2 separate regions of the Homo sapiens genome follow, and region 1 is linked to region 2. The links come from fine-mapping of genetic effects on gene expression. A gene starts in region 2. The other region holds a variant in brackets. All regions are shown on one strand. Distances are between the middles of the regions. Region 1 overlaps MYO1C (myosin IC). Region 2 holds the start of MYO1C (myosin IC).

The links. PIP is the estimated chance that this variant, and not a neighbour inherited with it, causes the effect.
Region 1: its variant is fine-mapped to the expression of MYO1C in whole blood (TOPMed, PIP 0.93).

What each region holds. Positions count from the first base shown.
Region 1 is chr17:1,461,433-1,465,771 of GRCh38, reverse strand. It overlaps MYO1C (myosin IC), which reads left to right. Exons shown (of 32, transcript NM_001080779.2): 32 at 20-1,586. The coding sequence ends at 46. Among named protein-coding and RNA genes, the nearest start is that of CRK, 7.4 kb to the right of the region's middle. RefSeq lists enhancers at 1,748-2,567, 2,697-2,776. The variant C/T (reference allele first, on the strand shown) is at 2,397.
Region 2 is chr17:1,490,291-1,494,666 of GRCh38, reverse strand. MYO1C (myosin IC) reads left to right here and starts at 1,981. Exons shown (of 32, transcript NM_001080779.2): 1 at 1,981-2,254. The coding sequence starts at 2,180. LOC105371483 (a long non-coding RNA gene) reads right to left here and starts at 1,880. Exons shown (of 2, transcript XR_934145.4): 1 at 1,042-1,880; 2 at 1-717. It overlaps INPP5K (inositol polyphosphate-5-phosphatase K), which reads left to right. Exons shown (of 12, transcript NM_016532.4): 12 at 1-90. RefSeq lists silencers at 2,726-3,125, 3,206-3,645 and an enhancer at 2,930-3,649.

The DNA of each region.
Region 1 (4,339 bases), 29 kb after region 2:
TCTCTCTCCGCCCCCACAGGTCGCCCCACGGCTGAATTCTCGGTGATAAAGGCGCCCACTGGACCCTCCCAACGCCCAATGCTTTGCTTTTCTCCTCCTCCCCTTCCCAGTTACCAAAGACTCGAACTTCCAGACAGGGACCCAGGGACACCCCGAAGCCCACCTGCAATCTCCCACCTCCTGCCCATCCCTCTCTTGAGGGAGCAGCAGGGGCCAGGAGCTACCCCAGGAGTGGGCCAGGCCGGGCCACAGCAATAGGAAAGCCAGGGCCAGAGCGAGCCATGCCAGCCCTACTGCCGATGCCAAATATTTGAGAGAAGGGAACTTTTGCTGAGGTTTTCTCTGAGGTTTTTTTGATGCTTTATAGGAAACTATTTTTTAAAAAAAGCCATTTCCCACCCAAGGACACAGTGGATGTGTTTTCCCTGACTCCAGCAGGGCAAGGAATGTAGCCGAGAGGTTGTGTGGGCTGGGCTCTGGTGCCCTCTTCCCTGGCCAGGACACCTCTCCTCCTGATTCCCTTGGCACCTTGTCTTTCTGTCTGTTTACCTGTCTCCCTGCCTGCCCATCTGCATCTTTTGCAGCCCACTCTGACTTCCATCTGGGGGCTGAGACCACCCTTGCCTGCCCCCTTCTTTCTGCCTTAAGAATGTCCTTTTAGGCTGGGCATGGTGGCTCACGCCTGTAACCCCAGCACTTTGGGAGGCGGAGACGGGCAGATAACCTGAGGTCAGGATTTCGAGACCAACCTGACCTACATGGAGAAACTCCGCCTCTAGTAAAAATACAAAATTAGCCGGGCATGGTGGTGCACGCCTCTAATCCCAGCTACTCGGGAGGCTGAGGCAGGAGAATCACTTGAACCCGGGAAGTGGAGGTTGCAGTGAGCCAAGAGTACACCACTGCACTCCAGCCTGGGCAACAGAGCGAGACTCCGTCTTAAAAAAAAAAAAAAAGAACGCCCTTTTACTGTCCTCATCATCCCAGTTTGAGGCAGTGCTGGAGTGGGGAAGGCCGTCTTAGACCATAGAGGTTGGAAGACGCTGAGAGATCATCCAGCCCAGCCCCTTGATGTTACAGAGCAGAAGACAGATGCCCAAACAGGAGAAGGCACTTGCCCACGGTCATACGGCAGGTTGCCACAAAACCAAGATGGCAGCCCTTCCTCAGCGTGCCTCACTGCCACTCCCAGAGCCAGGGAGCCCCATAAAACCCACATCATGTCTTAAGAGTATATCTGGCTCCTTGACCAGCAATCGGCCCTGGGAGCCACCAGGTGGGAAAAGCGCCTCTGCCAGAGTCCAGGCCTTGGGATGACAGACAGCTTGCCCGCACACTCGGGCCCCACTCAAGGATGTAGGGCCTTTTCTGGCCCCTGACCCCTCCCTGGCATGGGAGCGTGGGGACGGGGCTGGCCTTGGGAGGAGCGGCAGGGGCATCACCTCCTTCTGCTGCTTCTCCCTGCTCCTACCCTCAAGGGCCTGGGGGCTGCCCAGCTGCCTCTATGCCCTTCTGGGGGTCTCAGCCCACTGCTGACACTTCTGCAATCCAGAGAAACACTAAATAAAGCAATACGTGTTTGCCAATGTGGTCTCCTTATGAATATTAGGAAACGAAGAGGGCCCCGGAAGGCAACCAAGGGCCTCGTGTTGCAGGTTTTTCTCGAGACAGTCTCGTTCTTGTCACCCAGGCTGGAGTGTAGTGGTGTGATCTTGGCTCACTGCGACCTCCACCTCCCAGGTTCAAGTGATTCTCCTGCCTCAACCTCCTGAGTAGCTGGGACTACATCATGCGCCACCACGCCTGGCTAATTTTTGTATTTTTAGTAGAGATTGGGTTTCACCGTGTTGGCCAGGCTGGTCTCGAACTCCTGACCTTGGGTGATGCCTCCCACCTCGGCCTCCCAAAGTGCTGGGGTGACAGGCATGAGCCACCGTGCCCGGACACCTCTCGTTCAAATTCTGTTGCAAGTGACAAACCCAGTCCAAACTGGCTTGGGCCAAAAAAAGGATATTTATAAGCATTAGCACCTTAGTCCCAGAGTAAGGCTACTTCCAGGTGCTCACACACTGTCAGGAATGTGTCTGGAACCATCGCCTGGCTGAACCTTCCTCTACAGTGGCTTCTTTCCCAAGCAGATTCTCACCTGGAGGTGGGGTGGCAGCAACAGCCACCCACAGCTCCAGGCTTTCATTCTGTCAGTTCAGCATTGGAGGCAGAAAGAGGAAGTGCCTCTTTCCCAAAATGTGGAAGTCTCAGAGCGGATTCTCAGTGCAGCACCTTGAATGAGGCATCCACCCTGACCCAATCACTGTAGCCAGGGAGAGGAATAGATTCTGATTGGTCAGGCCTGGATCGAGTGCCTGCCCCTGGAGACAGAGCTACCAGGGGCACAC[C/T]GGAACCCACACCGGAAACCACAGAACCAAGAGTGGGAGGAGATGACTCGCCAAAATGAAATCAGTGTCGCCTCCACAAGAAAGAGAATGAGTGGGCCGGGCGCGGTGGCTCACGCCTGTAGTCCCAGCACTTTGGGAGGCTGAGGCAGGTGGATCACCTGAGGTCAGGAGTTCAAGACCAGCCTGGCCAACACGGTGAAACCCCATCTCTACTAAAAATACAAAAATTAGCCAGGCAGGGTGGCGTGTGCCTGTAATCCCAGCTACTCGGAAGGCTGAGGCAGGAGAATCCCTTGAACCCCGGAGGCGAAGGTTACAGTGAGCCGAGATTATGCCACTGCCCTCCAGCCTGGGCGACAGAGCAAAAAAAAAAAAGAAAGTGCTTCAAGCTGCAACCACGGAGCTCGTCGTCAGCAGATGGCTGTGAGTTTTTCCAAGAGGGCGGCGCGCTGTGGGTGGAGGGAACGGTGCATGTGGAGCTTAGAGGCAAGAACAGGTTTGGCCCGGGGTCAGGCCAGCTGCCTGAGGAGCTTAGATTTGAAACCTGGGGCAGAGATTCTCAAACAAGGAGATACCACGCAACGTGGTGTTTTGGGCTTGACACGATCCTGTACGCACACCTACATTTTGACACCTCTCTCCATGATTAATTTTCCCGAGGAAAAATGAAACCACAATTATTCGTCCACTTTATCAGCAGTAACGATGCCTCCAAGAAGCTGATAGATAAGATAGGTATTAAGTGCAATTACATGCTTTATAACTGTGTCGACATTCCTTTCTCTAGCAAACCAGAATGCACGCGAGAATGACATCACAGACATTACCCAGACGTCCGCCTTTTTTTGTTTGTTTGTTTGTTTTTTTGTGACAGAGTCTGTCGCCCAGGCTGGAGTGCAATGGCACGATCTCAAAGTGGTCACTCCAAAGTGGTGGGATGACAGGCGTGAGCCACCGTGCCCAGCCTACTCTGACCTTTTGAGAGGTAACCAGGACTGGTTTGTGCCCTCAGCTCACATCCTGAGGGAAGTCCAGTGACCTCCAGGAAATATCTGCCAATTATGGGAAAAGCTAATGCTGGCTCTAGACAAGAGCTTCCGCCAGTTCTCCATTCATCCTTCCTTCATTCAACCCGGCGCTTTGGGAGGCCGAGGTGGGTGGATCATTTGAGGTCAGGAGTTTGAGACCAACCTGGCCTCCTGAGGCAGGAGAATTGCTTGAACCCGGGAGGTGGAGGTGGCAGTGAGCTGAGATGGAACCACTGTACTCCAGCCTGGGCAACAGGTTTTTGTTTGTTTGTTTGTGTGTTTTGAGACGAGTCTCACTGCATCGCCCAGGCTGGAGTGCAGTGGCGCGATCTCGGCTCACTGCAACCTCTGCCTCCTAGGTTCAAGCAATTCTGCCTCAGCCTCCTGAGTAGCTGTGACTACAGGTGCGTGCCACCACGCCCAGCTAATTTTTGTATTTTTAGTAGAGACGGAGTTTCACCATATTGGACAGGCTGGTCTCGAACTCCTGACCTCATGATCCGCCTGCCTTGGCCTCCCAAAGTGCTGGGATTCCAGGCATGAGCCACCGCGCCCGGCCCATTCAACCAGTATGAATTGAAGGAATGCTTGCAATGTGCCAGGATCTCAGTGAGGCTCTTGGGATATAGCAGGAACAACAAAAAGACCCAAATCCCTGCTCTCATGGAGCTTACACTCTAGCAAAGAATAGACAATACGTAAGGAAAATACCTAACATATTAGAAAGAGATAAGTGCTAGGAAAATAAGCAAAGCAGACAAGGGGAGAGGGAGTGTTGGTGTGTAGTTTGCAGTCAGGCAAGGCCTCACAGAGGAGATGACATCAGAGCGGGGACCTGAACGAGGAGAGGAAGTGACGGCTAGGATCTGGAGCAAGAGTGGTCAAGGCAGAGGGAACAGCAAGGCAAAGCCCTCG
Region 2 (4,376 bases):
TGAAGAATTGTCCCCTGGCTTCCAGCAGGCCATGGCTGGCTGTTTTGTGACTGTTACATTGTGCAGGGGTAATTATTAGCGTGGCTTTTACACTTGCGTGTGACTGATGATTGGGGGGTGGGGGTACGGTGATGGGCCTGGGACTAGCTGTAGATTCCAGGAACAGGGACCCTGTAGATCCCAACTAGACTTCTGTGTCTGAGATTTGCAGAAGTGGCCAGGACTGGGGCTAGGATGAGGTTCTAGAATGGTGAGCCTCTGGGGCCCTAACCAGGTGGAGCATGCCATCTATGCCGGTGGCCGCTTAATGTACTCTGTTAAGTCAAATGAGCTCTTGTTCATCCCTCCTGACCCGCTGCTCTGCATACCCTGGTGTTGAGCCTTCTGCCTGCGTTAACCAGTCCAGAATGCCACCATCTTCTCTTTCTGCCCCACTTCTCCTCAGCCCCTTCTTGCTGAGTTTTCCCCCATGGTAACCTATCCCTGCCCCCAACACATATACCTAGGGACCTCCAAAGCCCTCACTTGCCCACCTGTTCCTTCTCACATGCACAGCCATCACGAGGGTTACTGCATGGCACCCTTCATTGGGCAGATGGGAAAGCCAAGGCTCAGAGAAGTGGTACAGTCTCTTCAAAGTTCCAGGCACCTGTGGTTTCCCACAGGACCAGAAACAGGAATGGGGTCTGAACCCACCCGCAGAGCGGTCTCAGTAGTCTGTAAAATACAGATGATGTCCCTATTCTCAAGATTACTGTGGGAGAACAATTGCAGAAAGTGTATCGCACTAGACCCGCCTCCCCGTTCTGATTAATGCGGCCCCGGGGCTTGACCCCAGGGGTCCCCCCACATGCTCACCTCCCCCGTGGTGAACTGAGGTCGCCACACACCCAGCCTCCTGTGTGGGAGGGGTGAGCCCAGCAGTGATTGAGAGGCGGAAAGGGGAATGGGGGGTGCTCTCCGTCCTCTGGGCCCCAGTCAGGATATGGCCGTTCTGGGTCCACCCCGACCCACTGGGTGGAAACAGGAAATAAGTGAGACCTGGTGTGCACTGGGTCTACGCCTGGCTCCACGGCTGATAAGGGCCATTGTGTGGCCGCCGGGGATGAGCCTGCTCTGGATAGATGTGCTTCCCGGAGGAAGGAAGGAAGGCTTGCTAGCTTTTCCGGGGCGGGGGAAGCTGTGGGGAGAGAGAAGGGTGCCGGGGGGAAGGCCCCTGCCTATGGGGCTGTCGGTGCCAGCACACACCCACGGGACTCAGCCCTTCCTATGCCAGCCTCTCCCTCTGGAAAGGTCTGTTTCCCCTATCCACTTCCCTGTTCTTACTTCCTATAAGGAATGGCTGGAGACTGGAGGGCTCAGTCTCAGGCCAGGAAAGTGTCAGCTGTGATTTAGCAACAATAAAAATAGAAAAGCAGGAACATCAGGGGTGGGGGTCACCTGGGGGTACTGTTGAAACGCAAGGGATGAACAGGGCTAGAGGTTGCCCACACCCAGGGAACCCAGGAACTAACCTCACAAGCTCTGAGGCTCAGAGGAGGGTAAGCCAAGAGCTTCCTCACAGCGGGACAGCCCCCTGTCCGGGCCCTGCATGACCAGGCCCCAGCAGCCCTGGTCTCTCAAACTCATGGTGGGGGCTCACCTGCTGTGGGGGGCAGCCCCGTTGAGGGGATGTGCAGGAAAGCCAGTGCCTACTAACGGGTCCTCTTGGCCTAGGGGAGGGCATGCCGTCTGGTTTGGGGAGTGGGCCCCGTGCTCTCTAGGTGGTACCAGAGAGTGGGCAGGAGGAGGGGCCCAGCCATAGAGCTGCCGTGGGGATGGGGGGAAGGGGAAAGGCGTCCTAGCCTTTGACCTGGAGCCCAGGGTCCCCCATGGGTGGCTGCATCGGCTCCTCTGGTTACCTGGGACAACAGGCATTTCCTCCATCCCCAGCCCCTCCTCTTCCTGCTCCAACCATCCGGGCCAAGAGGCCTCCCAGTCAGACCTGGACGGCTCCAGCCGTGTCCTGAGGAGCTGGACCAGCCACATCCCCTGGGGCTGCAGTTGAAGCAGAACCAAGTGGCCATCCCGGCGTTAGACCGTAGGTTCCTGGTCCCGGAGTGGTCGGAGCCCGCCAGTGGGCAGGCAGCTCTTGCTCACAGGCCGCGGTGCCCAGGCCGCTGGCTCTCCGCAGGGCGGAATGGCGCTGCAAGTGGAGCTGGTACCCACCGGGGAGATCATCCGCGTGGTTCATCCCCACAGGCCCTGCAAGCTTGTAAGCTGGGATGCTCTGGGCTGGGAGGAGGGTGGGAGCGTCTCCCCAAGGCCGGGCAGCCCCTCTCAGGCGAGCCCTCGGGCAAGAGCTGAGCAGCGGGGAGGGGTTCCGATCCTTGGCGGGGCCAGAACAGACTGAACAAGACGGGGTGAGTGGAAGAGTAAGGATGCAAGGGCCACTAGCAGCAGGATTTTTGGAAGTGGAGGTCTGGGCTTGACTCTTCCCCGGCTTCCCGAACCTCAGTGGGCAGAACCGTGAATACTGGGCACAAAAGGCAAGTGCCGGCTGCTGTGAGGTCGAAGGACCAGGGCATGGAAGCTCCAGGCTCAGTCAACGCCCCGCTCCTCTCCAGTCCGCAGGGCTGGGACCGCCCAAGACTCAGAACAGAAGGACGGTGTGGGAGGTGGGTGAAGGGTCACGGGTGGGTAGAAACGGGGGAGCGCGGCCCTGGCCCGGCCCGCAGGAAGGGGCTGGAGATGCAAAGGGCCCGGAGGAGGGAGAAAGTCGGGCGCCCCCACGCCCCCAGCAGCGCGGCGGGGAGCCGGGTCTTCGGCCGGAGGGGCGCGCGCGTGTTCGCTGTGGCCCCGGGAACGGGCCGAGGCGGGGGCCGCACGCACCGAGGCTTCGCGGACGCGGCCGGGGCTGAGGCGGGGCGGGGCGGGGCCGGAGGGTGCGCGGCCCTGCCCGGGATGACGACAGGCTGCGGCCCGGCCCCCGGCGGGCCCTGGGCGGGGAGAGTGCGCCCGGGCCGCGGATCCCCAAGCCCGCCACGCCGCCCAGCCCGGCCCCGCCCGCGCCGGAAGAGCCACGCCGGTGGGTACTCGGGGCGCGGGGACGGCGGCCGCGGGGGGCGGGTGTGGGGAGCGGGCGGCCGGGCCGGGAGCCGCCGTGCACGAGGCAGGGGTCACGGCCGGGGATCGCTGGGGCCGAAGAACGGCCGCGTGGACCCGTGCGGGGGGGGGGGGTCCCACGACCCGGAGGCGCCGGCGCAGCCTGGTGGAGACTTAGATTTACCTGCGGGGAGCGGGAGGCGGGGAAGAGCGGCCTGGGCTGCAGGACCCAGGACCCTGCGCGCCCTTCGGGCCCCGCCCGCAGCCCTGCTCCGCCTCTGGGTTCCGGAGAAGCCGCCTAAACCCGCCCCTTCCCGTTCTCCGCCCCTGGGGCCCAGCGCGCCCCGAGTGTGACGGGCGGGGGGCTCCGGGGTGGCCGGAGAAGGAGGATGGCCACGCGGCCCTCAGTCCTCACGCTCCGGCCTCCCGCGCACACGCCTGGCTCTGAGATTCATTCATTCATCCAGGGGTCCGGGAAGGGGTGACTGAGCCCCACCGTGTGCCTCGCTGCGTGTAGGGAGTGGGAGCCGTCTCCTGGGAGGGACTGACAAGGAAACAGCTGATTCCTGCGGGGTGCGATAAGGAGGCGCTGCGTGTTTGGGAGAATCAGGAAGGGGTTCTGGAGGAGGTGACACCTGAGCCGAGTCTCAGTGAGGTGGGCAGGGAGAGTGCCCCGGGCTGGGGAAGCCGCAGGTGCAGGCACTGAAGCTTGGACTGGCTGGCGACGGTGCGAAGGCCCCCTCCTGGGGGGAGGGGTGGGGGGAGAGGGGACTGGAGCGGGCCATCTGGCACATCGGAATGCAGGAGCAGTGGGGTAAACTGGGGACAGCAGGGGGGTCTCGGGAGTTCATAGGCAGGGTCCTGGTAAGCAGCAGTGAGTGTGAATCATGGGCCTGGCATATGGAGGGTGTCCTAAACCTTCACTCTATGAACATGAGGTGTTGATTTGATTTGTGTTGCCCCAGAGGAAATGGATTGGTAGGAGGAAGGCAAGGAGGCCAGTTAGGCTGCTGTCTTGGCCCAGGTAAGGAGCAGTGATGGAGGTGAGGTTTTTGTTTGTTTTTGTTGTTGTTTTGTTTTGTTTTGAGATGGAGTCTCGCTCTGTTGCCCAGGATGGAATGCAGTGGTGCGACCTCTGCTCACTGCAACCTCCACCTGCCGGGTTCAAGCTATTCTCCTGCCTCAGCCTCCTGAGTAGCTGGGATTACAGGTGTGTGCCACCGCGCCCAGCTAATTTTTTTTTTTTTTTAGTAGAGACGGGGTTTCACCGTGTTAGCCAGGATGGTCTCAAT